Linked DNA regions of Homo sapiens: regions 1, 3, 4 and 5 are each linked to region 2. The links come from fine-mapping of genetic effects on gene expression. A gene starts in region 2. Each other region holds a variant in brackets. All regions are shown on one strand. Distances are from middle to middle.

What was found.
Region 1: its variant is fine-mapped to the expression of C1RL-AS1 in whole blood (INTERVAL, PIP above 0.99).
Region 3: its variant is fine-mapped to the expression of C1RL-AS1 in whole blood (INTERVAL, PIP 0.98).
Region 4: its variant is fine-mapped to the expression of C1RL-AS1 in whole blood (INTERVAL, PIP above 0.99).
Region 5: its variant is fine-mapped to the expression of C1RL-AS1 in whole blood (TOPMed, PIP above 0.99).

What each region holds. Positions count from the first base shown.
Region 1 is chr12:7,254,328-7,260,617 of GRCh38, forward strand. No RefSeq gene overlaps it. Among named protein-coding and RNA genes, the nearest start is that of ACSM4, 47 kb to the right of the region's middle. RefSeq lists a silencer at 4,783-4,983. The variant T/C (reference allele first, on the strand shown) is at 3,369.
Region 2 is chr12:7,106,149-7,112,432 of GRCh38, forward strand. It overlaps C1RL-AS1 (C1RL antisense RNA 1), which reads left to right and starts at 2,160. Exons shown (of 12, transcript NR_026947.1): 1 at 2,160-2,333; 2 at 2,525-2,799; 3 at 3,916-3,999; 4 at 4,150-4,424; 5 at 4,877-5,458; 6 at 5,859-5,916. C1RL (complement C1r subcomponent like) reads right to left here and starts at 3,066. Exons shown (of 6, transcript NM_016546.4): 1 at 2,962-3,066; 2 at 2,103-2,331. The coding sequence starts at 3,032. RefSeq lists enhancers at 2,086-3,285, 2,118-2,287, 2,928-3,007.
Region 3 is chr12:7,139,105-7,145,394 of GRCh38, forward strand. It overlaps CLSTN3 (calsyntenin 3), which reads left to right. Exons shown (of 18, transcript NM_014718.4): 9 at 2,138-2,300; 10 at 2,982-3,035; 11 at 3,765-3,922; 12 at 4,059-4,207. Among named protein-coding and RNA genes, the nearest start is that of CLSTN3, 12 kb to the left of the region's middle. The variant G/A (reference allele first, on the strand shown) is at 3,133.
Region 4 is chr12:7,208,990-7,215,279 of GRCh38, forward strand. PEX5 (peroxisomal biogenesis factor 5) reads left to right here. Exons shown (of 16, transcript NM_001351132.2): 14 at 16-181; 15 at 694-851; 16 at 1,033-2,470. The coding sequence ends at 1,234. Among named protein-coding and RNA genes, the nearest start is that of PEX5, 22 kb to the left of the region's middle. The variant GAAAAAA/G (reference allele first, on the strand shown) is at 3,475.
Region 5 is chr12:7,132,301-7,138,060 of GRCh38, forward strand. CLSTN3 (calsyntenin 3) reads left to right here. Exons shown (of 18, transcript NM_014718.4): 2 at 724-846; 3 at 1,273-1,468; 4 at 3,027-3,235; 5 at 3,504-3,653; 6 at 3,906-4,091; 7 at 4,529-4,810; 8 at 5,655-5,760. Among named protein-coding and RNA genes, the nearest start is that of CLSTN3, 4.8 kb to the left of the region's middle. The variant A/C (reference allele first, on the strand shown) is at 2,990.

The DNA of each region.
Region 1 (6,290 bases), 150 kb after region 2:
AGGATCAACAAAATTGATAGACCGCCAGCAAGACTAATAAAGAAAAAAAGAGAGAAGAATCAAATAGATGCAATAAAAAATGATAACGGGGATATCACCACCAATCCCACAGAAATACAAACTACCGTCAGAGAATACTACAAACACCTCTACGCAAATAAACTAGAAAATCTAAAAGAAATGGATAAATTCCTCGACACATACATCCACCCAAGACTAAACCAGGAAGAAGTTGAATATCTGAATAGACCAATAACAGGATCTGAAATTGTGGCAATAATCGACAGCTTACCAACCAAAAAGAGTCCAGGACCAGATGGATTCACAGCCGAATTCTACCGGAGGTACAAGGAGGAACTGGTACCATTCCTTCTGAAACTATTCCAATCAATAGAAAAAGAGGAAATCCTCCCTAACGCATTTTATGAGGCCAGCATCATCCTGATACCAAAGCCTGGCAGAGACACAACCAAAAAAGAGAATTTTAGACCAATATCCTTGATGAACATTGATGCAAAAATCCTCAATAAAATACTGGCAAAACGAATCCAGCAGCACATCAAAAAGCTTATCCACCACGATCAAGTGGGCTTCATCCCTGGGATGCAAGGCTGGTTCAATATACGCAAATCAATAAATGTAATCCAGCATATAAACAGAACCAAAGACAAAAACCACATGATTATCTCAATAGATGCAGAAAAGGCCTTTGACAAAATTCAACAACCCTTCATGCTAAAAACTCTCAATAAATTCGGTATTGATGGGACGTATCTCAAAATAATAAGAGCTATCTATGACAAACCCACAGCCAATATCATACTGAATGGGCAAAAACTGGAAGCATTCCCTTTGAAAACTGGCAGAAGACAGGGATGCCCTCTCTCACCACTCCTATTCAACGTAGTGTTGGAAGTTCTGGCCAGGGCAATTAGGCAGGAGAAGGAAATAAAGGGTATTCAATTAGGAAAAGAGGAAGTCAAATTGTTCCTGTTTGCAGACGACATGATTATATATCTAGAAAACCCCACTGTCTCAGCCCAAAATCTCCTTAAGCTGATAAGCAACTTCAGCAAAGTCTCAGGATACAAAATCAATGTATAAAAATCACAAGCATTCTTATACACCAATAACAGACAAACAGAGAGCCAAATCATGAGTGAACTCCCATTCACAATTGCTTCAAAGAGAATAAAATACCTAGGAATCCAACTTACAAGGGATGTGAAGGACCTCTTCAGGGAGAACTACAAACCACTGCTCAGTGTAATAAAAGAGGATACAAACAAATGGAAGAACATTCCATGCTCATGGGTAGGAAGAATCAATATTGTGAAAATGGCCATACTGCCCAAGGTAATTTATAGATTCAATGCCATCCTCCTCAAGCTACCAATGACTTTCTTCACAGAATTGGAAAAAAATACTTTAAAGTTCATATGGAACCAAAAAAGAGCCCACATCGCCAAGTCAATCCTAAGCCAAAAGAACAAAGCTGGAGGCATCACGCTACCTGACTTCAAACTATACTACAAGGCTACGGTAACCAAAACAGCATGGTACTGGTACCAAAACAGAGATATACATCAATGGAATAGAACAGAGCCCTCAGAAATAACGCTGCATATCTACAACCATCTGATCTTTGACAAACCTGAGAAAAACAAGCAATGGGGAAAGGATTCCCTATTTAATAAATGGTGCTGGAAAAACTGGCTAGCCATATGTAGAAAGCTGAAACTGGATCCCTTCCTTACACCTTATACAAAAATTAATTCAAGATGGATTAAAGACTTAAACGTTAGACCTAAACCCATAAAAACTCTAAAAGAAAACCTAGGCATTACCATTCAGGACATAGGTATGGGCAAGGACTTCATGTCTAAAACACCAAAAGCAATGGCAACTAAAGACAAAATTGACAAATGGGATCTAATTAAATTAAACAGCTTCTGCACAGCAAAAGAAACTACCATCAGAGTGAACATGCAACCTACAAAATGGGAGAAAATTTTCGCAACCTACTCATCTGACAAAGGGCCAATATCCAGAATCTAGAATGAACTCAAACAAATTTACAAGAAAAAAAAAACCCATCAAAAAGTGGGCAAAGGATATGAACAGACACTTCTCAAAAGAGGATATTTATGCAGCCAAAAGACACATGAAAAAATGCTCATCATCACTGGCCATCAGAGAATGCAAATCAAAACCACAATGAGATACCATCTCACACCAGTTAGAATGGCAATCATTAAAAAGTCAGGAAGCAACAGGTGCTGGAGAGAATGTGGAGAAATAGGAACACTTTTACACTGTTGGTGGGACTGTAAACTAGTTCAGCCATTGTGGAAGTCAGTGTGGCGATTCCTCAGGGATCTAGAACTAGAAATACCATTTGACCCAGCCATCCCATTACTGGGTATATTCCCAAAGGACTATAAATCATGCTGCTATAAAGACACATGCACACGTAAGTTTATTGCGGCACTATTCACAATAGCAAAGACTTGCAACCAACCCAAATGTCCAACAACGATAGACTGGATTAAGAAAATGTGGCACATATACACCATGGAATACTATGCAGCCATAAAAAATGATAAGTTCATGTCCTTTGTAGGGACATGGATGAAATTGGAAATCATCATTCTCCGTAAACTATAGCAAGAACAAAAAACCAAACACCGCATATTCTCACTTATAGGTGGGAATTGAACAATGAGATCACATGGACACAGGATGGGGAATATCACACTCTGGGGACTGTGGTGGGGTTGGGGGAACGGGGAGGGATAGCATTGGGAGATATACCTAATGCTAGATGACGAGTTAGTGGGTGCAGCGCACCAGCATGGCACATGTATACGTATGTAACTAACCTGCACCATGTGCACATGTACCCTGAAACTTAAAGTATAATTAAAAAAAAGAAAGAAAAAGGAATATAATCAAGGCAATGGTTAAAAAAAAACCATAGAATCTTTAAAATTCCGAGTCTACCATGATGCTCAGGGTGGGTTGGGGGATGAAAGGGTGGAGGGAGAAAAATTCCTTTTTGAGGAAAACTCTGGTTAGTAAAAGTAGAAAGAATAACAGAATTTGGAAATCAACATTTTGCAATCTCCAATGATTGATTTAGATAAGGATCATAACTGGATGCTATGTCCTCTAGGTGAAAGTTACACTTGCAAAGTGTGGCTGACACCATCTGAACCAAGTGAACAAATTTAACATCATCAATAGTGGGACAATCTGACATCATGTGCCTAGTAAGATGATGCAGTGCGTTATACATGGATTATTTATGAAATGTCCTGCTAGAAGTGTTTATCCTGAATCTAATCGGGCTCCAGCTTAATTTAAAG[T/C]CTGTGAAAGTTTTAAAATATATTACCCATTTCCCTCCAGGAAGATGACCTCAATTTATACTCTCAGCAGCGTAGTAGACTGCCAGTTTCCCTGAACAAGTTAATTGAGACCACAAGGACACAAAAATACACAGGCAGTATGTGAGATATTCATCAAGACAACAACTGATCTGGATTCTTCTCAAGACAATGTCATGGGTAAAAAAAGCAAGAGAATTCTTCTACATTACAGGAGACGTGCTTGAATCCTGGACTTTTAAAAAAGCTATAAAAGACATTTTGGGACCATTGAGGAATTTTTAGTGTGGAATGGTTATAAATGATATTTAGGAATTATGAATGTCTTCGATGGTCATAATATTCTCCTATTATGGCTATATGGGAGAATGTCCTCATGTTTTAAAGATGAATGCTGAAGAATTTAAAAAAGAAAATAATGTCTGCAACTTACTTTCAAATGATTTAGAAAAATCATGTAAATAGGGCAACAAGTGAAAATACCCCAAATTCTTCTGACTCTGAAGGTCCACAAAACATACTTGAAAAACCACTGGGCTAGGCAATGAACAATCTGGATTCCCCAAATGAGTACTTATGATGGTGACTGGGTGGAGGTCCTGGAAACCTGAAATCTATCCATTTGTGTATGTCTCTCCCAGTGCCTCAACACCTGCAGTTCCTTAAGGCAGCTTCATGAATGAACTTGTTCCCACTGGTTCTTTTTCTGACATGTGAAAGCTTTTATAATCTCAGATCCTGTCTCTTTATCTCATAATAAAGAAAGCTCCCCTCAGCATCTATGTCAACACAGACAAAGGGTTCAATCTGCCAAAATGCCTCAGCAAAGTCTGGCTCTTGACTACAACTGGGGTGTGGGATGAGGTGGCTTTTTCCTCTGATTTCACAACCTCTAAAGGAAATGGATTTTTATTGTTTCTTTTTCTTCTGTAAGCTAAAGGAACTAGGGCTCTAGAGTGGCTTCTACCACTAAGTTCCATCCTTCAACACCAACTGACTCAAGAAAAAACAGTGCAATAAGAGACCACAAACAACTTCCTGAAACACGAAAATAAAATGCATATATTTTCACCTGAATATTTAGAACAATAGGACTTAGCATTAGAAGACTGGGTTCAAATCCTGATTCTGCTTTTAACAAGTAGTGGACGGGTTATGGACAACTAATATCCTAAGCCTCAGTTATTTCACCTGAAAATTGGGGTGCTAATGATAATAAATGCTATGGAAATAAGATGAATAATAGCCATGGAAATAAGATGAGTTAATGGCTATGAACGTGCTTTGTAATATGAAAATGCTATAAAATGATCCTAGCTAGTCTAGTTAACTGAATTAATAAATGAATAATCTGAAGGCCAACAAGGACATGACTTGATTGACATTACAAAGCAAATTTATTTATCTGTTCAATACATTCTCTCCTGGGTTAGGACTTACACTAAAATATGGAGGTTAACTAGACTGTCCTCTTACTACATGTAGATGTATTTGTAGAGATCCATATAGATACATAAGAAATACAGCTGTCTCGCCAAATTTACTGAGTCATCCCAGCACCATACTAAGAGTTTGGGTATATTACTTCACTGAAGCTTATGACTGTCCTATGAGAAAAGTCCTATTATTATCCCCATCATATGAATAAGAACAGTGAGGATACAAAAGGAGAGATTATAAATGCCTGAAAAATATCAGTGAGAATGTAGGAGAAGAAATGGACTTTAGATTGAGCAGGTTGAATACACAGAACATAGAAAACCAATGGGATATAAGGATTAAGGAAAAAAGAGATGACAAGAAACCATGTTGCTATAATTGAGCAAATATTAATGCTATACAGAGGGAAGAACAGGTTGGTGGGGAAAATTTCCATTCATTTAACCAATATTAACTGAGCACTTAATATGTGTCTGACAATATTATAAGCTCTAGGGATATAGCAATAAAAAATATTGGTAAGAGTTCCTATTTTCCTGAACTTATATTCTGGGAACAGGGGAATATGTTCAAGAATTGTTATGTTCTTGATTTTTTGAGGCGCTCATTGAACATTTGGGTGAAGATGTCCAGGAAATACCAGGAAATAGTTGGAGAAATGGGTTTAATTCTCAAAAGAGTTGTTTAAATGAGAGATGAACTTGGGAAATCTTCAGTGTATAAATGGTGATTGAATTTATGAACATGAATGAGGTCACTCAGGCACAGAATATAGTTCCAGAAGAACAGCAGGCTAAAGGTGAAGCCCTTGCAATGCCAATATTTAAGAAGAAGAGTCCAAGAAAGAGATGAAGCAGGAACAGTTAGACAGGTAAAAGGAATGGCAGAAGAGAATGATATGATAAAAACCAAGGAAAGAGAAAGTTATAAGAAGGAATGGTTAGTAGTTTCAAATGCTGTTAAGAGATCAATATGTATAATGAACAACTGAATGTGGCACCCAGAGGGTCCCTATGATTATGGCAAAGGCAGCTTCAGGAGAGAAGTTGGGGCAGGAGGCCAATGTAGTATGTGGAGGGGTGTCTAGAAGAAAAGTCTGTAAAAGCCTCAATTAAAGTGAACTTTTCTGTTGAGAACTTAACCTGCCAGCATGGGCAACATAGCGATACATCATCTTTACAAAAAATAAAAAATTAGCCAGGCATGGTGACACGCACCTGTGTTCCAGCTACTCTGGAGGCCAAGGCAGTAGGATTGTTTGAGCTCCGGAGTTTAATGCTAAAGTGAGCTGTGATCGGGCTACTGCACTCCAGCCTAGGTGACAGAGAAAGACCCTATCTCAAACAAACAAACAAACAAAAACAACAACAACAACAAAAAACTTTATCTGGAGAGAAATATTAATATAAGCAACAGGAGACCAAGAGTGAGGTATTGGCTTTTAAAATAGAGGAACAATGTCAG
Region 2 (6,284 bases):
AAGGAAAATATTCCAAAAGTTCTAGAGAGAGAAAACAAAGGATTAGGAATGATAAGGGCATCAAACTTCTTAACAAAGTCTAGACCTAGAAGACAATATCATCAAAATTCTGGAAGAAAAAGGTTTCCAATCTAGAATGCTATACCCAGATCAACTATCCCTCCACTGTGAGGGTAGAACTGAGACATTTAGACATATATAAGATCTTCTAAAATTCACTCTAAAATACCCTTTCTAAGGAAGCCACTGGTGAAGGTGCTCCTCCAAAATGGGAGAGTAAACCAAAAAAGAGAAAGGTATGGGATTCAGGTTCAGCACAGGTAAAGGAAATCCCCAGAAAGAGGGAGAAGAGAACTCCCAGAATGTGTGACGGCTTAGAGAGCAAAGAACTCAGGCTGTGAAAATAAATCGAGAGATCTTCAGGAGGGATGTCACCAATTAAAAGGAGGACCGATAGACTGAAATTCATGCTTGAGTATTTCAGAAGAAGATTTACACTCCTGGTTAAGAGTCTGGTGAGATTAGTTACAGAGACAACTAAGCAAACTAAAAAGCAAAACAAAAACAAACACCCCCCACCAAAAAACAAAACAAAACAAAACAAAAAAACTCCATGTAACTATTGACTCCTAGGAAACCCAAAAGTTGGAGAAGAAAAGAAATATAATTATTTTATGCTATGTGCTCAGATGTGAATATTTTACAGTCATAATAATGTAAATAATGAATAAAGATTTAACTAAAAATGATAATATAGGTAAACTGGCAGAATGAGGAGGGGAAATGTGGGTGGTGAAGACTGAAGACAGATAAAGCTAGTCCTTATCTTCTATACTGTAGTTGAGCATTAATAGAAAATACGTAAAAATGAAAGACAAATAAGCATGTTATTTATACATATGAAGTTAAAGACCAGATGAAACAGCTACATGAATTGGCAAATGACTGCTCCTGAGGAGCAGCACTCAGGGGCGGGGAGGAACAGCTTGGAGACTGCTGTTATTCATAAACCTTTTTAAAAACCTTTTTTTTTTTTTGGAGACAGGGTCTCACTCTGTCACCCAGGCTGGAGTACGGTGTCATGATCAGAGCTCACTGCAGCCTCTACCTTCCAGGCTCAAGTGATCCTCTCACTTCAGCGTCCCTTGTAGCTGGGACCACAGGTGCGTGCCACCACACTTGGCTAATTTTTAAATTTTTTTGTAGAGATGGGGTCTTGCTATGTTGCCCAGGCTGGTCTCAAATTCCTGGGCTCAAGTGCTTCTTTCGCCTCAGCCTCCCAAAGTGCTGGGACTACAGACATGAGCTACTGCGCCCAGCCTTAGAAAACTTTAATTAAAAAACAAAAAGTCTTACAACTATTATGTATCCATAATAATTAAAAATTTTAAAATTAAAAAATAAAGTTCAAAAATTTATGTCATTTTGATATAAATAAAATTTAAATCAAAAGATAATGTGCTCTTTTTATTTTTATTTATTATTTACTTATTTTTGAGATGGGGTCTTGCTATGTTGCTTAGGCTGGCCTTGAACCCTGGGCTCCAGCCCTCTGATCCTCCAGCCTCAGTCTCCTGACTATACTGCTGGGACTGCAAGCTTGCATCACTCCATCAAGTACTGTTTTTAAAATGTCCTTATTCTGAATAAGGCTTTGGCGTTAGAAGTTTTGTAATAGCTCTTCCAAGGTAAGTGTGAACGGTGACTTAATCTTTTGTTATTATTTGTGTCCAGCTTCCTCACCTGATAGAGCAGGCACTCAACAAATACATGATGACATATTTTTAACAACCAATATGTGCGTCCCTGCCCCTGGCTCCATAGATTTGCAAGATTTGTGTGTCCATTCATAAGCCTTCCAAACGCAGGGCCTGCTTGCTGCCCTCTTTGCTCTGTGGGGCCCAGATGGCAGCCCCGGAGGCGCTGGTGGGAGGCTGTGTCCTGGGGTCCACCACTGCTCCCCGGTAAGCCAAGCCCGACTGCCCCTACATGGAAAATTCATCCCTCCTCCAGATGGGGGATTCAGGGCACCGCCACTTCCCACAACCCCGGGAATCTCCCTGGCCACAGTCCTGGCGGGACCCCCCCCATCCCCAGCTCACTGTGACAGAGTCCCCTGCACAGTCCTGGGACGGCTCCAGGTCGAAGTCCTGGAAGACGAGCCTCACAGCAAAGCCCTCTGGAGCCTTGATGTCCGTGCTGCTCTCTTGGCCTTTGCCATACGGCTCTGGGTACCCGGGGGATGTCAGCTGCTGGGGTAGCTCTTGGGCCAAGAGGACGGAGCCCCGGGTTGGGCAAGCCTGGAGGACTCCCCAGAGAAGCAGCCACCACCTGTGAGTTGGGGGGAGGGCAAGGTGGGGCCGCGCAGCTATGGCCGGAAGCCTGTGGGTGTGGGAGGAGCGGGGGAGCCGCGCTAGGACTCAGAGGCCTCGCGAGGCAGGGCTAGAAGCTGTGGCCTCACCCTTGAGGCCCGGGCACTTCCCGTCTCCTCCCTTGCTCCCCTTCCTCACCCCAATCCCTACAGCCTCCCGCGCAGCCTGAGCTCTAGGATTGTGGGTTTTCCATCCTCCGAAGACATCACCTTTGCTCATCTCCCAGGAGAGTCTCGTCCAAAGGAGGGGGGTGCTTTCTGCTTCAGCAGATCCCACCCCACCCTGGGATCCGAGGGAGCAATGGTGGGGCGAGTGAGGGTCTGCCGTAAATATCCCCCGACCACCCTCTGGGAAGGTGCTAGAGGCCACAGGCAAATTTCAGTCTCCCCATGGAATATCTGCTGTGCTGCTGCTGCTGCTGCTGCTGGTGTGTGTATGTGGGGGAGGTGTGTGTGTGTGTGTGTGTGTGGGGGGGGGGGGGATGTGTGTGTGGGGGGGGTAGGGTGGGGGGAGGGAGGGTTTGCGGCCACCCACCCTTTCTCTTCCCCTCCCGTCCTCTTCCCTCCTCCTCTGCCGGGGCCACACTCACATTGCGCCTGGACAGCCTTTGGAGTGAGGGCTTCTCCAGAGATATTTCCCCCACACTCTGGGTCCAGGCATCTGGAACTGGACATCTGGGACCTGCGAGAGAACTGGCCCAGGATAGGGAACAAAAGGTGAAGGCCGGTGGGGGAGGAGGAAGTTCCTGGAAATGTTAAGCAACTCCACAGTTCCCCTTCTCCAATTCTCCGGGCTGAGCGCCACCTGCCGTCTGACTCAGGAACAGCGGGCCCGCCGCAGCTTAGGGGAGAAACGTCCAAAAACCTCGCTGGCCCTCAGAGGTCAGGGTGGCAGGGCACTGACTCGACCCTTTTGTACTATTTAACATTAATTTTTGCCATGTGTGTAGGATGGCTCCTTGTGAGTTATGGCTGCTGCCTTCAATCAGCCATGTCTCTTCCTCCCCGACCTTTCCGTTCACGACATACCCGGGGAGCCTCCCTCTTGTAGAATTGAAGTTTGTGATCCTTGAACTTGAGCTTTCTCTTCCTTTCCCTCCTCCCCAAGCAGGGGTGGGGGACATGCGCTTAGGTGGTCTTTTGAATCCTATTCACAACCTCTGGAGGCTGCTTGTCCAGCATGGTCAGGGCTGGGGTCGAGCCCAGGTGTCCCTCAGTCCCTAGTCCCAGTCATCACTCAAGCCGTCACTCAAGCTTCTTTAGGCAGATACTAGAGCCCCTGCCTGCTCTCACCGCTCCCCGAGGAAGGACACTCACCCACAGCTTGGTAGGAGGCCAGAAGGCTCTTATGGAGATGGGTGGTCCCATCCTCAGAGAAGGCAGGTGTGTGGAAGGCCTTACGTTGTATGCACACACAAATGCATGTGCGCGCGCACACACACCTCTCAGAGAAGAATCTATTGCTTCCCCCATTTTGCATATAGTAATATGGAGGCAAGTTACAGACCCAAACAGGGTGTGCTCTGCATCTTTGGTTTTTCTAGGCTAGAGAGATTTAGGAGAGCCACAGTCTATGGCTACAAGGAGATGATAAGAGAGTGATGGCCAGGACAGATGCAATGTCTCAGGTACAGTCTTGAGATCAAGCCTACCTGTCTGCCACACCCCAACCCCAAACACAACTGGGGATGATCTCCCATACCCATCTTCGAGGAGTGGGCCTCTCTGACTAGGACTTCTTTCCTCCCCTGAGACCACTGAAACCTGCTCTCTCATAGAACTCTTAGGGTCACCTGGAGCACCTTGGGAGCCAGAGATGCAGCCAAAGAGTGAACAATGGTACCAATCCCAAGACCCATGTGTTAAGAAGAAACCAGCCAAGACTCAGATCAGGATTGGGGAGTCCACCCCTCGTTTCCCTTCAGAGCATTATTTCCTTGTTTGCTAAGAGGGGCAGGAACTGGAAAACTCAGGCTAGCCCATCTGAGAAGACTTTCCTGGAGATGAGCTGGAGGAGGGAGGAGTAAGGCCTTGGAAGGAAACTCCAGGACAGGTAGGGTGACCGACTGTTCTGATTTGCGTGGGACCGACGGGTTTCCCAGGACATGAGGCTTTCCGTTTTAAAATGAGGGAAGTTCTGGGCAAGCCAGGACTGGTGGTCACCCTAAATGGATAGGGGTTAAAGTGCTGGAGTGAGGCTGGGTGAGAAAGAGGACAGGGAGCCAAGAGGGTGGGGAGGCAGTGATGCACCGGCAGCCCCAGGTGACTGGGCAGTCCAGGGTCTGGATGTGGTCCCTGTTTGGGGTAATCCAGCACTCTGAAGATGAGGGCCCACCTTGGTCTCACCTAGGTGGCGTGTGCGGCTGCAGCATGAGTTAGGGTCAAGGGCAAGGGGAGGAATGGCTGGTGATGTGAGACTGGAGAAGGAGCTGATGGCTCTGTGCATAGCTGGTCACTGCAGGCCCCTGTGGGCTAGGGCTGAGCTGTGCCCCGCTGTGTTTTCAGCACCACCTCCCCTACACTGGGACCTCGTCTCTAACTGGCAGAGTGGTCAATGAAAAAAAGGGCATGCCTTGGCACATCATGGTCAAACTGCTAAAAGCCAAAGACAAGAGAAAATCTTTTCTTTTTTTTAATCCCATCCTAAAGACTAGACAGAACAATATTTTCAATGTCACTCTTTTCTCATCAAAACCAATATAGACCAGAAGACAGTGGAATATCTCTAAAATGCTGAAGGAAAAAAAAAGTCAACTCAGAATTGTTTTTCTAGTGAAAGTATTCTTCCAGAATGAAGATGAAATAAAGCTATTTTCAGATAAAAGAAAACAGAGATTCTTGTCGCCAGCAGACCTCCACTATGAGAAGCGCTAAAGAAAGTTCTTTAGGACGGGCACGATAGCTCACGCCTATAATCCCAGCATTTTGGGAGGCCAAGGTGGGAGGATTGCTTGAGCTCGGAAGATGGAGGCTGCAGTGAGCCATGACGGTGCCACTGCACTCCAGCTTGGGTGACAGAGTGAGACGCTGTCTCAAATTGGAAGAGCAGAGCTGCAGACAGGAATAAGAAGAACGGTAAATTTGAAGGTAAATATAAAATACGATTTTCTTTTTAATGTCTTTAAAATATGTAGAACTGTTCCAGGCAAAAATTATAACATTGTATTGTGAGGTTTATAACATATGTAGCTGTAACATATATGAAGACTGTAGTATAAAGCAGGGGTCCCCAACCCCTGAGCCGTGGACCAGTATTGGAGGTGAGTGGTGGTGAGCAAGCAAAGCTTCATCTGTATTTGTAGCTGCTTCCCATCACTCACATTACCATCTGAACTTCGTCTTCTGTCAGCAGCAGCAGCAGCAGCAGCATTAGATTCTCATAGGGGCACGAACCCTATTGTGAACTATGCATGGAGGGATCTAGGCTGTGTGCTCCTTATGAGAATCTAATGCCTGGTGACCTGTCACTGTCTCCTATCACCCCTAGATGGGACCGTCTAGTTGCAAGAAAACAAGCTCAGGGCTCCCACTGATTCTACATTACGGTGAGTTGTATAATTATTAATATTTCATTATATATTACAATAACAATAATAATAGAAAGAAAACATGCAATGAATGTAATGTGTTTGAACTATCCTGAAACCATCTCCCTCTGGCCCCATCCCTGGTTTGTGGAAAAACCGTTTTCCATGAAGCCAGTCCCTTGTGCCAAAAAGGGTGGGGACTGCTGGTATAGAGGACAAGGGGGTGGACTCATGGTTACAAGTTTCCTTCATTTCACATGAAGTGGTACAATAGGAACTGAGAAAACTGGAGTTTAGGATGCAGACTAATTCCCAGAGCAGCGGGTCTCCACCCTGTGGTGTGGGAAGACCCACAGGCCCTAAGATCCTTTCACGGGGTCTGTGAG
Region 3 (6,290 bases), 33 kb after region 2:
GAATACAATGAATGAAACAAAATCTTTGCCATCATTCAACTTACATTTCAGTTGGGGAGATAAAGTTTTAAAAAGTAAATAGACATGTAAAATGATAAATTGTGAGAAATGCTCTGAAAGAAGCAGGCAAGGGACTGGGGCAGAGCATGGCGGGAGGCAAGGAAAGGAGAACTTGCCTTAGATTGGGTGCTCCTGGGGGACCTGACTGAGGGGAAATTTAAGCCTAGTGCTAAAGGATGAGAAATAGCTGGGTGTGGGAAGAGTGTGGGAAGGTTCCAGGAAGAGGGAAGAGCATATGCAAAGGCCCTGAGGCAAGAAAGAGCTCAGCATGTTCCAAGCATGGAAAGAGGGCCAGTGCGGTTGGAGTACAGTGAACAAGACTGGAGATAAGTTGCAGAGATGGGCAGTGATCAGGTTGTACAGTGGACTTTTTCAGCAGGGTTAGTCTAGATTTTTGTCATATGAGAGACAGGAAGTGTTTTTTGAAGGATTTTAAAGCAGAGGCATGACCTGATCAGATTTACATCATCATTATTATTATTATTATTATTATTTTTTTTTTTGAGATGGAGTCTCACTCTGTCACTAGGCTGGAGTGCAGTGGTGCGATCTTGGCTCACTGCAACCTCGGCCTCCCGGGTTCAAGAGATTCTCCTGCCTCAGCTTCCCTAGTAGTTGGGACTACAGGCGTGTGCCACCACGCCCAGCTAATTTTTGTATTTTTAGTAGAGATGGGGTTTCACCATGTTGGCCAGGATGGTCTTGATCTCTTGACGTGATCCACCCACCTTGGCCTCCTAAAGAGCTAGGATTACAGGCGTGAGCCACTGCGCCTGGCCAGATTTACATTTTAACAAGATCCCCTTGGCAACTGTGGGATGGTTGTATTGAAGGTATCTAATGGTGACAGTAAACAGGACTGTTGCAACAGTCTTCATGAAAGGGGTTGGAGACATGACTGATGTGTGGCAATGGAGACGGAGAGACCTGCACAGAAACCTGCAGCTTGTAGCTCTGTTTGGACCTGGGATCAACAGCACCTGCTAATGGACTGGATGTGGAGGCTGAGGGAAAGGGAAGATCAAAGTTGTCTCCTACGTCAGCCACTTGAGCAGCTAGATGGATGATGGAGCATTTATACTGCCTGGGGAGAAACTGAGGGAGTTGGGAAAGGGCATGGACTTGCACCTTACACGTGTTAAATGTGAGATACTTGTGGGCATCCAAGTGGAGAATCTGGCATTCAGAGGAGAGTTATGGGCTGGAGATGTGGATTTTGGAGTTACCAGTGTATAACTATGGTACCCAAACCCATGGCAACAGATGAGGTGACTTCTAGGAAAAGAGTGTAGAGAGGAAAGAGAAGAGGGCCTAGGTCTGAGCCTTGAGGGACCCCAACATTTGGAACTGGATGAGGCAGAGTACTCTCTGCCCCTTTTTCCTCTGACCATCCCCCATTCCATCTTGGCTGGCCCTAGGAGAGACTGCAAAGGGAAGCAATATTTATTTTAGTGCTTAATGTTGGGTTAGAAGCTATCCTAGAGATAACCTGTGATCCCAGCTACTTGGGAGGCTGAGAGGATCACTGGAGGCCAGGAGTTGGAGACCAGCCTAGGCAACATAGTGATAGCTCATCTCTAAAAAATAAAAAAATTAGCTGGACATGGTGGCACATACCTGTAGTCCCAGCTACCCCAGAGGCTGAAGTGGGAGGATTGCTTGAGCCGAGGGGTTTGAGGCTTCAGTGGGCTATGATTGCACCACTGCACTCCAGCCTGGGGGACAGAAGGAAACCCCATCTCTAGAGTTTCCAGTGCCTTACACACATATGTAATACATAAGTTCGGGGGGCAGGGAATTTATTCATGAAAGTGTGTTACTCCTCTTAGGAATATTTATAGCTTTAACGATTTACCTGAAGAGTGGAATCTTTGCTACTAGGTTGGTTGCCTGATAGATTTTGGACAAGGATGTTATTCCTCGAGCTGGATAGGCAGCAAAGCACTAGTAAGCCCTGTTGGTAGAACTGGGAATAAAGGGACTGTCCCCTGTCTCCCAGGAGATGGGGCAGTGCCTAGGGTTAGCTCTCTGAAGACGAATTACCTGAGAGGCTCTTGCCCCTACCCTACTCTCCCAGGTCTGTGATGATGAGTGGCACCACTACGCTCTGAACCTCGAGTTCCCCACAGTCACACTCTATACCGACGGCATCTCCTTCGACCCTGCCCTCATCCATGACAATGGCCTCATCCACCCACCCCGAAGGGAGCCTGCTCTCATGATTGGGGCCTGCTGGACTGGTAAGCTTCTCAGTGAAGACTCCAGTGGTTCAGGATTTGGGAAGGGAGGTAGGCTGGTGAGGAGCAAGGGCAGTCTGACCCAGCAGCTGAGGCCGCCTCCTGCATCTCTCTGCAGCTGTGCAGGGTGACTCTGAAGATCTCCATGGGAAGGGACCACAGCCTCCCTCCCGTATCTCCCACTAATCCAATGGGTCATCACCTCTGACTTGGAGGAATTAACTTCTCACGCATCCCCAGACTCTCTCTCTGTAACTCCAGCCAGTTTCCACTTTTTTCCATCAAAGTGATGATGACTTCCATAGCCCATTCCCCTGCTCAAGGAGAGTAACCCCTTAGAGTGTCCTCGGTCTTCCAACTTTTAAGCCATTGAAAAAATTTTTCTCCTCTTGGGAGTGTGTGTGTGCACATGTGCCTGTCTGTCTTACCAGAGCCCACGTGTTTCCTCAGCAGCATATCGTATTTGGGGGTTTGTCTATAATAGAGGCTGGAGAGGTTGGAACATGACAAAAGAAGGGTTGGGGCTGAGCTGAGAGGTTGCAAGTTATACATGGGCAGGGTCAGAATCCCATGTGGGCATGAGAGCACTCATGGGGATGAGAGGAAGACATCTCATTCCTCTCTGTCAATCTCTCCACATCCCTGAGCTCACCAGCACTGTTTTTTTTTTTTTTTTATCCCCAGAGGAGAAGAACAAAGAGAAGGAAAAGGGAGACAACAGTACAGACACCACCCAAGGTACTCCGTGTGTAAGAACTGGAGACCAGAGAGTTCTCATCTTCACTTTCTGTTCTGAGATCCCTTTTCCACCCCAAATCCTATCCAGCCTGTGACA[G/A]CCTCCTAGGCCACCAGGGGGCAGAGCCTCCAAGAAATACAGCAGGGCAGGGGCTCCTGGAGTGGTAAGGCTAGAGGCAGCTTGGCTGGGTTCTGGGTATCCTGTCCTGCCCACAGAATGAAGAATGGGGCTCTCTTGGTGGCTTTCCACATGGTAGAAGGGAGGTGGCAGGAGTCAGGAGTCAGACACGCAGAAGGGGAAGGTCTGGGCATCTGTGAAGCTCGCTCACATCCATCCTGGTCTCCCTGCATGTCACTGGAAAGACGTTCTCTCCTGCCGCCTCCCCCTCCCTCCTTGTTTTGACTCTTTCCTCCTGTTGGTCCTGTTTCCTTCTCTTCCTCCCTCTCATCTTTGTTGCTTCTACTTTTCACCCTTCTTCTTCTCCCCTGGCTTTATTCTGTCTTCTTTTGTCTCATTTTCTCCCTTCTCTAGCCTCCCCCCTTACCTTCACTTCTCCCTCACCTCTCATCTCTCTTTTTTCCTTTTTTTTTTTTTTTTTGGTTTCCACATTTCTCCTTTTTTTCTTTCTCAACTCTTCTGCTCTTTCTCTCCTTTCCCTTTCTCTCAGCCTTCGTCCTTTTCCATCCTCCTCTCTTCTCACCTCCCGTCCTGCTCCTGTGTTCCTACCCTAGGAGACCCTTTGTCGATCCACCACTACTTCCATGGCTACCTGGCTGGTTTCAGCGTGCGCTCAGGTCGCCTGGAGAGCCGCGAGGTCATCGAGTGCCTCTATGCATGTCGGGAGGGGCTGGACTATAGGGATTTCGAGAGCCTGGGCAAAGGCATGAAGGTATTGCCCCATCCTCTAGCCCTGTTCTTCCCAGCATGCCCCTTGCCCCACCCCCTTGCCCTACCCCTCTACCTCTGCTCCCTTCCTCTGCCACCTCCTGGCCCTGCTCTCAGCTGTATCTGTGTCTGGGGCCCAGGTCCACGTGAACCCCTCACAGTCCCTGCTCACCCTGGAGGGGGATGATGTGGAGACCTTCAACCATGCCCTGCAGCATGTGGCTTACATGAACACTCTGCGCTTTGCCACGCCCGGCGTCAGGCCCCTGCGCCTCACCACTGCTGTCAAGTGAGTGTTGGGTGGGGCAGGGCAAATCACCAAGCAGAGCCAGACAGTGTCACAGCTCCTTGGCCTAAGGCGTCACCTAGAGCTAGGCATACCTCTTTTGTTTTATGGATGAGGAGATTGGGCCCTCAAATGGAGACAATTGACCACTGAAGGTCACATAGCAATATTGGTAGAAGAGTCTGGACTATACTCAGATTTCTCAACAATCAATCTGTTACTCTTTCTACCAAGTCACACATCTAGGGTTTCCGGGCTTTGATCTTCTCTATGCCTCTGTGCTGATACGTAAAGTGGGACACAGGATTGGGAGTGGGGAGACCTGACATTAATTCTGACTCAATGCGAATTGCTTGGATAACCTCGGGCAAATGGTGAGTCCTGGCTGCTTCACTTGTTTTAATCTTGCTTCACCAAGCTCTTGCAAGGTCACGTACGATGGCCTAAGTCTGGGGGTTGGCAGTCCTAGGCCAAATCTGGCCTGCCCACCTGTTTTGTAGTTTTATTGGAACACAGCAGTGCCCATTCATTGCATATGTCTATGGCTACTTTCACTGTGATGGCAGAACTGTGGGTAGTTGGGACAAAGATCATATGGCCCCCTCAAACAGAACTATCTAATCCTTCATAGAAAAAGTTTGCTGGCCGGGCACGGTGGCTCACGCCTGTAATCCCAGCACTTTGGGAGGCCAAGGCAGATGGATCACGAGGAGTTCAAGACCAGCCTGGCCAACATGGTGAAACCCTGTCTCTACTAAAAATACAAAAATTAGCTGGGCATGGTGGCACGTGCCTGTAATCCCAGTTACTTGGGAGGCTGAGACAGGAGAATTGCTTGAACTGGGACCCAGGAGGCGGAGGTTTCAGTGAGCCGAGATTGCACCACTGCACTCCAGCCTGGGCTACAAAGCGAGACTCCATCTCAAAAAAAAAAAAAAAAAAAAAAAGTTTACTGACCTCTGAATTCTAAGTGAATGACTTTTGGAGTCTTTAAAAGAAAAATTGTAGATTATTTCAAGGTTTGAGTATATATTACATGTTTAAAAATACAGATCAATTGAGAGGCAACGAAAGTATGATAGTTAAGAGCATAGGGTCTATTGCTAGCTTTTTGGCACTGGGCAAATGCTATAAAGTGGTGATAGCAATAGAGTCTAACTCGTGGAATTGTTACGATGACTACATGATATAATCTGGATCAAATGCCTAGCAGAGAGTGGATGCCGCTTAAATGCTGGCTATTATTACATAAAGGCATTTTCACCCCTTATTATGGTTTATGGGCGGTTTTTAGGAGATACTGCCATCTAGTGGGTGAATTACATGATTTAAGAGTTAGGATTTCTGCGTTCCAATCTTGTTACCCCTCTCCCCGATTCTGCCTCAGTTTCTCTGTGAGCTATATGAAGATAAACATCTCAAATTTGCCCCTATCCTGGGAGGGGTGGGTTTAGAGGGGAGAGGGCTCTGAGCCCTAGAGGGTGACTGGGCGTGATTATCAGGCCTCACAGTTAGAGCTGTGGAAGGCCCCGGGCTGTGGCTTTTGGGAATTTGCTGGTTCAGGGTGTGGAGCTGAAGGTCACAGGCAGTTGAGTTAATGTGGGTGCAGCTGATTGCTGAGTATGCACCCCGCCATGTCCCAGTCAGAGCTCCAGTTGTTAAAGGGCTGTCATCCAGTTATGAAAGGCTTGATCCCTCAGAAGCCAAGGCATTGCCTCGTCCCCTCCAGTGCTGAGGAGCCATGGCAGAAGGGAGGGCTCTGGTTTTTGGCCTAGGGTGGAGCTCTGCAAGGGGAGTTCCTGCGGGGGGAGGAGTTGACATTCTCTTTGCTGACTGCCTCATCTGAATTCCTGCTATCTTTTTCATGCCCAGGATAGAGGTTTATCCAAGGGCTTGGAACCTGCCTTTGAGGAAAGGGGCCTTGATGTTTTCTCTATGAGGTTAAGAAACAGAGTTTTCATTTCTCCATTTCTAAGGTTACTACATGGTTGGTGCTATCCTAATACTTCCCTGAGGTCACGGGAGAAAATATAGAGGGGTGTGTGTGTGTGTGTGTGTGTGTGCGCGCGCATTTGTGTGTATGTAA
Region 4 (6,290 bases), 100 kb after region 2:
TTCCTTTTCATCCAGCTCCCTGTTTCTTGAAGTGAAAGAGCTCTTCCTGGCAGCTGTGCGGCTGGACCCTACCTCCATTGACCCTGATGTGCAGTGTGGCTTGGGAGTCCTTTTCAACCTGAGTGGGGAGTATGACAAGGCCGTGGACTGCTTCACAGCTGCCCTCAGCGTTCGTCCCAATGTGAGCCCAGGGGAGGAATGGAAATGGGACATGACTGTGTACCTTATTGAAGAGCCATTTGTTGGGAAGCTGGGTTTGATGGTGCATGCCTGTAGTCCCAGCTACTTGGGAGGCTGAAGTGGGAGGATCACTTGAGCCTGGGAGTTCAAATCCAGCCTGGGCAACATAGCAAGACCCTGCCCACCCCCACAAAAAAGAATAATTTGTTCAGACTTTTGGAGTCTTGGGGTATTTCATTCCAGTGTTCCATGTACTGACTGCCTTGGGAGGACTGGGAAAAGAAGGCTGGGAGTGTAGGGTCATCTGGACATAAGAGAGTCTGCATAGGGTGAGAGGGGCTACATTGTAGCCACACACCGAACTGTTGAGAATGGAATGGGACGAAACATGTTAGCTAACAGAGTAGTGAAACAGCTGGAGTAATGTGCAGAGTTTGAGCTGAGTCGGTGGAGTAATGTGCAGAGTTTGAGCTGAGTCAAGCTGTTCCCATCCGTTCTGCATCCCTATCCCAGGACTATTTGCTGTGGAATAAGCTAGGCGCCACCCTGGCCAATGGAAACCAGAGTGAAGAAGCAGTAGCTGCGTACCGCCGGGCCCTCGAGCTCCAGCCTGGCTATATCCGGTCCCGCTATAACCTGGGCATCAGCTGCATCAACCTCGGGGCTCACCGGTGAGAGTATCTATTGAGAAATGAATGAATGAGCTTTTTCTCCCTGCCTTTGGCCCTAGCTCCTTATTCTTAGATCCTGTTTGACTAACCAGCCCTAGCTTTCTCCCTCCCACTGCTAGCTGACCTGCTTCCTTCCATTGTTGTTCAGCTTAACAGCTCTCATTCCTCTTCTTCCTTACAGGGAGGCTGTGGAGCACTTTCTGGAGGCCCTGAACATGCAGAGGAAAAGCCGGGGCCCCCGGGGTGAAGGAGGTGCCATGTCGGAGAACATCTGGAGCACCCTGCGTTTGGCATTGTCTATGTTAGGCCAGAGCGATGCCTATGGGGCAGCCGACGCGCGGGATCTGTCCACCCTCCTAACTATGTTTGGCCTGCCCCAGTGACAGTGGGACGGGCTGCCCTGTGAGTGTCCACCTGGAGGGATCCCCGCTTTGGATGTGATTCCCTCTCCCCAAATGGGCCTACCAAGGGGGCGGGCTGATGACCATAAGCGGTACGGCCTTTCAGGAGCTGCCTCAACGTAGGGGTGGGTAGTCTGTGTTCTAGTTCCTACATAATTGTAGGAAAATGAGCTGTGTCATCTCTGAGTCCCTTGGTAATTCAAGGGCTGTACATCCAGCTACAGATCTCTCTGCTCATCATGCCCTTTCTTGGTGCTGCTTTTTGGGTAGGACCCCACGATTTAGGGTAACTGTTATCATCAGCTGCCATTTCTGATAGGGTCTACCACATCTGTAATGTCTGTCCTTTCCCCCACTTTTACTGGGAATTGATAGTCCAGCTTCCTTGGGCAGTGTAAGTAGGAGGTTCATCTGCTGTGCGCCTCTAATGTCTGTCTGGATGGGATGTGTTAGGAGTTGGCCTGTTGGGTTGAATTGTTGATTTGGCTGAGCAGAGCTGAGTTTTGGTAGGAGTGCTCATGGTTCTGTCATTCTTGGACCTCTCCTGGCTGAGCTCTGATTCCCTGTGAGCACGATGCTGATGCAATAGTCCTGTGTCATCACTGCAGCGGTCCTCAGGAGCTGCCAGGGCCAATTGCTACAGAGTGTCTGGGTGTGTGGCATAGGAGGAAGGTTTGCTTGTGAAATGAGGCTGGGTGGGAGCGGGGAGGGACTAGATCAGAAGAGATCAAGGGCTCTATTCAGGAACGTTGGTGGGAGGACAGAGCAAGTGGGAAGGGGGTATGGTGAGTGCGGCAATCCCTCATCCTCTTAGAAGCACCTGTGAATGGGAATTGAGCCAACTGTTATAGAAAATTGGTTCAGAAAGTGCAATCTTGCCAGATTTCTAGCAAATAGGTTCAGTGTTACCATAAGCCTTTGCTGTACTTCTTGAAATGTTTCTAGGGGAGAGCATTGGAAAATCCCCTTCCCCCATCTAGATCGAAGGAAGATGAGGGAGCAGCTTGGATTCTTCTCAGTTGTCCCCTGCATGGGGAGATACACTAACCCCCAGAAATGACTGCTAAGCCTCTTGCCTTGTCTTTAGTAGCTAATGATCAGAGAGATTTTTTTTTTAAACTACCATGGTCCCAGGATTCCATCCTGAAATTTATTTTTCTTTGTATGAATATGTGTAAATGATTTAAAAATAAAACTGTAAAATATTTGTACGAAGAATAAATGGAACTGATGTGGGTATGAGTTCTGCTGGTCATGAAGCTGGGATGGCAGAAGGTGAGTTGGCGTTTGGAGGACTGGGATTCAACAGTTTCTGCCTTTCAAATTCTCACTGGTATATTGGTTACCTGCTCATCCCTCTAAAAATGATAGAGCACAGGAGACAGGGTCCCTGTTCTCTGGGCCTCTGGGCTAGCAGGAGAAAGAGATGTCGATAATCATGAATTTTTACTCCTGTTACTACTACAAAGGAAAGTGTGCAGTGCCATATAATTGTTAGGTTGTTTTGTATTATGAATTACATGGAAGGATTTTGATAGTTTTTCAGTGCTTAGGGTTTCTAAAGCTTTTCATCTGGCTCTGCCTGCCTTTATCGGGAACTGTATCAAGTGCCATATCAAGATGGGTATTTATCCTGAGGAAAAATTTAAAAATATACACAAATATTTATACTTGGAGATAGATGTTTGTGGGCACATTAGACTTGGAAAAAAAATTTTTTTTTTTTTGTTTTTTTTTTTTTAAGGCAGTGTTTCACTCTTTTTGCCCAGGCTGGAGTGCAATGGCGTGATCTCAGCTCACTGCAGCCTCCGCCTCCTGGGTTCAAGCGATTCTCCTGCCTCAGCTTCCTAAGTAGATGGGATTACAGGCATGTGCCACCACGCCCAGCTAATTTTGTATTTTTATTAGAGACAGGGTTTCATCATGTTGGTCAGGCTGGTCTCGAACGCCCGACCTCAGGCAATCCACCCACCTCGGCCTCCCAAAGTGCTGGGATTACAGACGTGAGCCACCGTGCCCAGCCAAAAAAAAGTCTAACTTTTAAATTTATTTAAAAAGTTTTTCAAATAGAGACTAGATCTCACTATGTTGACCAGGCTGGTCTTGAACTCCTGGCCTCAAGGAATCCTGCCTCAGCCTCCCAAAGTTCTGGGATCACAGGGAGGAGCACCATACCTGGCCAAAGTCTAATTTTTTTTTTCCGGTGAGCTCAAAAGCTGCCA[GAAAAAA/G]AAAAAAAAAAAAAAAAAACCCAAAAAACAAAAAAAACAGGTCTAAAAGACAACTGGGTAAGTAAATTGTCCAGACAGTGAAATATAGCTATTGCTATTTAATCATTTATGGAATAATTTCCAGTGACAATAGATGCTAACAATATAGTGAGAAAAATGGTTGGTCAATTATTTACAGATTGTCTTAAGAAAAAAATGCATTGAAAAGACAATAGGGAACTATCCCAATGTGCTAAAAGTGGGGAGATCATACTTCTCTGTAATTCTCAAATTTTCTTGGTGCATGTTTGATACTTTTCTAGAGGAGAAAATTAAACACCTGGGGGAGGAAAACAGGAAGCTGTTGTGGCACCTGTCACCACCTGGGGGATCACGAGGCAGCTGGTGTCTTGGGCTCTGCAGGTTGGTGGTGCAAAGACCCAGGCGGGAAGTGGGCTGGGCAGGTGGAGGAGCAGTTTCCACACTACATAGGTGCAGGACATGACAAAGTCTGGCTGTGTAAATGACTTAAGAATTAAGCTATAAAATACCTAGGAATCCAACTTACAAGGGATGTGAAGGACCTCTTCAAGGAGAACTACAAACCAGTGCTCAAGGAAATAAAAGAGGATACAAACAAATGGAAGAACATTCCATGCTCATGGGTAGGAAGAATCAATATTGTGAAAATGGCCATACTGCCCAAGGTAATTTACAGATTCAATGCCATCCCCATCAAGCTACCAATGACTTTCTTCACAGAATTGGAAAAAACTACTTTAAAGTTCATATGGAACCAAAAAAGAGCCCACATCACCAAGTCAATCCTAAGCCAAAAGAACAAAGCTGGAGGCATCACACTACCTGACTTCTTCAAACTATACTACAAGGCTACAGTAACCAAAACAGCATGGTACTGGTACCAAAACAGAGATATAGATCAATGGAACAGAACAGAGCCCTCAGAAATAACACCGCATATCTACAACTATCTGATCTTTGACAAACCTGACAAAAGCAATGGGGAAAGGATTCCCTATTTAATAAATGGTGCAGGGAAAACTGGCTAGCCATATGTAGAAAGCTGAAACTGGATCCCTTCCTTACACCTTATACAAAAATCAATTCAAGATGGATTAAAGACTTACATGTTAGACCTAAAACCATAAAAACCCTAGAAGAAAACCTAGGCATTACCATTCAGGACATAGGCATGGGCAAGGACTTCATGTCTAAAACACCAAAAGCAATGGCAACAAAAGACAAAATTGACAAATGGGATCTAATTAAACTAAAGAGCTTCTGCACAGCAAAAGAAACTACCAACAGAGTGAACAGGCAACCTACAAAATGGGAGAAAATTTTCGCAACCTACTCATCTGACAAAGGGCTAATATCCAGAATCTACAATGAACTCAAACAAATTTACAAGAAAAAAACAACCCCATCAAAAAGTGGGCGAAGGACATGAACAGACACTTTTCAAAAGAAGACATTTATGCAGCCAAAAAACACATGAAAAAATGCTCACCATCACTGGCCATCAGAGAAATGCAAATCAAAACCACAATGAGATACCATCTCACACCAGTTAGAATGGCAGTCATTAAAAAGTCAGGAAACAACAGGTGCTGGACAGGATGTGGAGAAATAGGAACACTTTTACACTGTTGGTGGGACTGTAAACTAGTTCAACCATTGTGGAAGTCAGTGTGGTGATTCCTCAGGGATCTAGAACTAGAAATACCATTTGACCCAGCCATCCCATTACTGGGTATATTCCCAAAGGACTACAAATCATGCTGCTATAAAGACGCACACGTATGTTTATTGCGGCACTATTCACAATAGCAAAGACTTGGAACCAACCCAAATGTCCAACAACGATAGACTGGATTAAGAAAATGTGGCACATATACACCATGGAATACTATGCAGCCGTAAAAAATGATGAGTTCATGTCCTTTGTAGGGACATGGATGAAATTGGAAATCATTCTCAGTAAACTATCACAAGAACAAAAAACCAAACACTGCATGTTCTCACTCATAGGTGGGAATTGAACAATAAGAACACATGGACACAGGAAGGGGAACATCACACTCTGGGGACTGTTGTGGGGTGGGGGGAGGGGGGAGGGATAGCATTAGGAGATATACCTAATGCTAAATGACGAGTTAATGGGTGCAGCACACCAGCATGGCACATGTATACATATGTAACTAACCTGCACATTGTGCACATGTACCCTAAAACTTAAAGTATAATAATAATAAAATAAAAAAAGAATTATTCTCTTAAAAAATTGTGAATGTTACATTATTCATGTTTTTACATTAAAAACATGAATAGATGTTGAAACTAATTTCTTTGGAAATCTTCGGATATAGACTATTACCTATTAATATAATACTGATAATGATATCAGTATTATATTAGTCAAAAGTTCTAAATTCATCTTGGGATTTTAGAAATTATATTGAAGCTAGCATCAATGAGCAATACAATTATTGTTGATAACCCAAATTTATCAGAGACGTGGCATCTTAAAATTTTACTCAGATTATGCATTTGGGTGACTTTGTAGTCCGCAAAATTTGCAGTCACTAAGGCTAAGGTTAAGAAAACTATTTTATAAATGGACAAAGGACATGAACAGACACTTTTCAAAATAAGACATTCATTTGGTCAACAAATAAATGAAAAAATGCTCAACATTACTAATGAAATGCAAATCAAAACCACAATGAGATACCATCTCACACCAGTCAGAATGACTATTATTAAAAAGTCAAAAAAGTAACATGTTAGTGAGGTTGCAGAGAGAAGGG
Region 5 (5,760 bases), 26 kb after region 2:
TGGGAAGCAGGGACGGGATTTGTCATGTTTCTAGGCCAGCCCGATAATCCCTTAGGATGACGGCTCTGCTGGGTCCAGTTGCTCAGCATTGATTCCTCTGCTCCATTCCTGCCCCTCTCTGCCCCCTCCCTCTGTCCTATATATCTTCACTTCTCTCCTTTCTCCCCATCCTGTGTTCTGGGAGAGTGGCCTCAAGTTGGGGCTTGGCTGGGAGAAGTGCAGAGTGAAGGGATCAGGACTGAAATGAGTTGGGAGGAGGATAAGCAATCAGGATCTCAGGAAACTTCTAGATCTTTTTCTAGTTTCAATTCTGCCCTTAATCTATCCCTTCCCTTTCCCAGGGCCTTCTCACAGCCCACCACTGCTCCCTGAAGTTCCCTGTCTCCATTCTCTAGCACGTGAAATCGCTAAAGAACATTCTCCACTTCCTGACCATGGTTCCCATGGAGATAGTGATCCCCTCCTCTTCACCCCCAGGGCAGGTTGTTTCCATGGGAACTGTCTACCCTGCTATAGGAGAAGGCTATGACCTCCCGCAGACCCTCTGACTCCTTTAGTAGCTGATTTCTTGTCCTCAACCACCCGCCTCCTGTAAGGTGCTCCTATAGGGGGTGGAAAAGGTGATGGTGCTGGGGTGTGAGTTGTCTGGGTCAACAAGGGTTGTTGTGGGAGTAGAGGCCCTGCTCACAGGTGCTTCCTCTCCTCTCCCTGGGGTGGGGCCAGCCAACAAGCACAAGCCATGGATTGAGGCAGAGTACCAGGGCATCGTCATGGAGAATGACAACACGGTCCTACTGAATCCACCACTCTTTGCCTTGGACAAGGATGCCCCGCTGCGCTATGCAGGTAATTGGGATTGGGGGATGGCAAGGCAGGGTAGGACAGAGAAAAGTGGGTGGGAGGGCCAAGAGCAAGGGAGGGAGGGAAGGTCCTGGGAGTGATGAGAAAGTAAGGGAAGATAAAAGTGGGCTCAAGGAGGGGAATGGTCTCCACTGAAGAATGGAGATTGAGTCAAGGATGCCAGAAAAGGACATGGCCAGGCAAGGGTTAAACACATCATGATTTTGTCAGATCTCAGGTCTGGAGGCTCTGGGAGGTTGCTGCTCAGGGAAGCTGGGCTTAGAGTTGCGTGTTTGATCATTAATGCTTTTGTGCCTACAGGAGAAGGGACAGGGCTTTGGGAGGAGAGGTGGAGCTGGACCCCAGGTGGGGAGACTGAGGGTGGGGAAGGAGACACAGCAGCCTCACTCCTCCCCTTCTCCCCTTTGCCAGGTGAGATCTGCGGCTTCCGGCTCCATGGGTCTGGGGTGCCCTTTGAGGCTGTGATCCTTGACAAGGCGACAGGAGAGGGGCTGATCCGGGCCAAGGAGCCTGTGGACTGCGAGGCCCAGAAGGAACACACCTTCACCATCCAGGCCTATGACTGTGGCGAGGGCCCCGACGGGGCCAACACCAAGAAGTCCCACAAGTGAGGAAGTCCTTGTCTCCTGCCCCATGTGTTGCAGGGTCCTCCTCCCTGCTCCCAAGCCCACCATCCTCTGTCCGTGCGGTCATCGAATATCCACCCCCACCCGCTGCTGTTCCTAGGACTTAGGGAGCCCCATCCCCTGCTGTTCCTAGGATTTAGGGACTTTCAGGCAAGGTGACAGAAACGTATAGTAGAGTTCAGTGGATCTAATCTTGGCTTTGCCTCTCATGACCTTGGGCAGCCTAGCCTTTCTGGACTTGCTTTTCCTTATCTGTAGAATGGAGATTGTGATGACACCTACTTCATAAGGCTGCTGTGAAGATTCAAGGAGATGGTTTGTGTTGAAAGCATGCACCACAGTGCCTGATACACGTTGAAGGGCACAGTACATGGGCATAATGATGAGGAGGAGAGCAAGAAGGAAGAGGATGAACACACTCAGCATGCATCCAGTTCCCTTTCAACTGCCCCCTCCAGTCTATTTGCAGTGTATACCACACACACGATCCCTATCATACACATATAGCTCTAGGTGAGGGTGGGCAGGCGATGGTTGTAGCAAGAAAGAGGCTCGGGTCTGGGACACCTACGCTTGTTGCCAGCTAACTTCTTATTTGAGAATAAGAGAAAGATCTTCAGTCAGGATTCCTGAGCCACTAAGAGGCACTAGAGATAAAATGCTCTTTGTGACTCAGTTTCCCATTTGAAGATAGGACCCTTGCCTCTGGGGCCTGGGAGCCTGGGTCTTGGCCTGGGGCAGGGCTCAGCATGAAGGGCCTCGACCCAGCTCTGCTTGCCCCGGTGCATGACTAGGGAGGGGCCGCATGTGCGGGAGGCAGCACTGCCCACACGTACTGTGCAGACATGTCAGATGACTTGTGACCTTTGTACACATGCCATTTCCCTTCTTATGGCTGGTTTTAATTTGGCTTTTACTCTGCATCTTCCTTGCTTATCCCCCCGGATCTGACTGTTGTGAAGGAAGGCCCTGCTGGATTTTATGCCTTACCCCTCCTCTTGGCACCCTGACCCATAGCATTTTGCACAGAAGTCATCAAAATCAGCTCCTGAGCACCCCTGGGCCTTGTTCCTCATCCCCTACATCAGTCCTCCTTTCTTTGGGCCCTCCCTCTGGTGTTGTCCTCTCCCTGGCATGACTTTGATGCAGCTTGGTGCCCTGTGGGGTGGGGAGGAGCGTGCTGACTGCCTCAGTCTCAGGGATAGATGGGCAGGCTCCCTCCTGTTCTGGCTCTCCGTCGGGATTCCTGCTTGCTCCTTTCTGGCATATGGGTGTACCGTGTCGAGGCTGTACCTTGGTGTACAGTATAAGGCTGTATCTCGTTGTGCCCATATTGAGGCTGTTTGTTGGTGTACAGTATTGAGGCTGTATCTTGGTGTACGGTATCGAACCTGTCCCTCCATGTGCCGTATCAAGGCTGTATCTTGATGTACCGTATCGAGGCTGTACCTCGGTGTGCTGTATCAAGGCTGTATCTCAATGTATAATGTCGAGGCTGGCTG[A/C]CGTGTCTTCATCCCTCCTTCTCTCTGGCATATGCAGGGCCACTGTGCATGTGCGGGTCAACGATGTGAACGAGTTTGCCCCAGTGTTTGTGGAACGGCTGTATCGTGCGGCTGTGACAGAGGGGAAGCTGTACGATCGCATCCTGCGGGTGGAAGCCATTGACGGTGACTGCTCCCCCCAGTACAGCCAGATCTGCTACTATGAGATTCTCACACCCAACACCCCTTTCCTCATTGACAATGACGGTGAGTCCACCCCTGGCTTCCCTGGCCACCCAGTTCCCCTTGAGCACCCACCTCCCTCAGGACAACCCAGGGTTGCATTCTCCACTTTTGCCCCTCAGACCCTCACCTCACCCTTCTTCCCAAATGGAGCCTTCTCCTCCCAGATGCCTTTTTTCCCAGCGTCCTGCTGCCTAACCTGCCTGCTGCCCGATGATCTCAGACATCCTCCCCTCCCTGCCCTGGGCTTTCTCCAATGCTCTAATGCTCTGTCCTCCTGACCCCACCCCAGGGAACATTGAGAACACAGAGAAGCTGCAGTACAGTGGTGAGAGGCTCTATAAGTTTACAGTGACAGCTTATGACTGTGGGAAGAAGCGGGCAGCAGATGATGCTGAGGTGGAGATTCAGGTGAAGCCCACCTGTAAACCCAGCTGGCAAGGTGAGAGCTCAGCGCTGTGCCCCATCTTGTGAATCATCTTTTTTCTTGGTCTCTCTTTCTGTCCTTTCTGACAATCATGGGGGCCAGGCTAGGGCTTGGATGATATTGGGGCAGGCTTGCAGCTATCTACTCTAGCCGGGCCATCCTGCCAGGAGCCCCAAACTGTCCATGGACATGGCAAGAGGAGCATGGAGAGGGGAGGCTGCTTTACCCTTCTCTCTCCCCATCACCCTCTCTGTCTCACCCATGCAGGCTGGAACAAAAGGATCGAATATGCACCAGGTGCTGGGAGCTTGGCTTTGTTCCCTGGTATCCGCCTGGAGACCTGTGATGAACCACTCTGGAACATTCAGGCCACCATAGAGCTGCAGACCAGCCATGTGGCCAAGGGCTGTGACCGTGACAACTACTCAGAGCGGGCGCTGCGGAAACTCTGTGGTAGGTGTGCCCCCAACACTGCCTCAGGCCTATCCCTTCCCATCCAACCTCTGTCCAAACTTTTCCAAGACTCTGCTTTACATCACCACTGGCCATCCACAGGTGTTTATCCATAGAGGTTGTGACACGATTAGCATTTGCGGCCCAAAAGGCAGGTACATATGTCTTTGGCAAAGATGCATAGTCATCGCACCAGACAGTCACCGGATGCATGGTGGAACAATGGTAGGGCGAGATGAAGAGTTGGAGAATGGGTTAACTGGAGAGATACTCTTAGAAGTGAGTTCATCCCTCTCTTGTCTTTGAAAGGCCATAAAAGGTGGCAAGACGTGCTGTAGGAAATCTTTTCCCATCAGTCCCTCTTTCCCTGCCTCCTGCCCTTTTCACCATCTGCTGCTTCTTGGCTCTGACACTTGTGCCTCCTGGGGCTCCCACAGGTGCTGCCACTGGGGAGGTGGATCTGTTGCCCATGCCTGGCCCCAATGCCAACTGGACAGCAGGACTCTCGGTGCACTACAGCCAGGACAGCAGCCTGATCTACTGGTTCAATGGCACCCAGGCTGTGCAGGTGCCCCTGGGTGGCCCCAGTGGGCTGGGCTCTGGGCCCCAGGACAGCCTCAGTGACCACTTCACCCTGTCCTTCTGGATGAAGCATGGCGTAACTCCCAACAAGGGCAAGAAGGAAGAGGAAACCATCGTATGTAACACTGTCCAGAATGGTGAGCCTCCCCTCCAGGCACTAGCCAGAGGGGGAAACTGGCTTCTTGTCCCGCCTCTGTCACTGCCCAGTGTGTGACTGTGAACAGGTCACTTCCCCTCTCTTCATTTGTGAGGTGCAAGTGCCAGGTGTGATATGCCTTGATTCTGTGCTTTATCCCCAACATGACATGTTGGATCGTACTGCTGTCAGAGTGCAATGGGATTCCTTGCTGCTACTCTTGTTTTCAGTTGCCCAGTCAACTTCTCTGTGTCCCACCATGTGGTAGGCTGTCCCCACCCCCCATCTCCACCTCCATTAAAGCCCCTCCATTGCAATGGGAAAGCCTGGGTAATGGTGTGCCCCATTCTTTCATCATCCCATCCTGGGACTGGTTGGCCCCAACTCCGAGGCCTGTTCTTCCCTCAACTGCAGGGCCTACTTCACTGGAGAGGGCTTAGTCTTGACCTGCTCTTTCATTTCTAGCCAATTCTCCAACCTCATTTCTCTTGACCTTGACAACTCTTTTGAAAAGGGTTGTCACCCATGATGTATGTATTAACCAAAGGACTGATGAAGAGCTGGTGATGGAGTGGGCCAGCTGATGTTCCCTCCTCAGCCAGCCAGCCAGGGTGCCTAAGAAGCCCAAGTTATCACTTGGACTGGAATGTGTGTGTGTGTGTGTGTGTGTGTGTGTGTGTGTGTGTGAGAGAGAGAGAGAGAGAGAGAGAGAGGAAAGAAAAATGCTAGAGAACGAGGGAATGAGAGAGGATTAAGAGAATCCAACATCCTCTCCTTCCTGCTGCTTTGAACTTGTTCTGGCCTCAGCCTCTGCACTTGACCCCATCCCCTTCCTGTGCCCTCAGAGGACGGCTTCTCTCACTACTCGCTGACTGTCCACGGCTGTAGGATTGCCTTCCTCTACTGGCCCCTGCTTGAGAGTGCCCGCCCAGTCAAGTTCCTCTGGAAGCT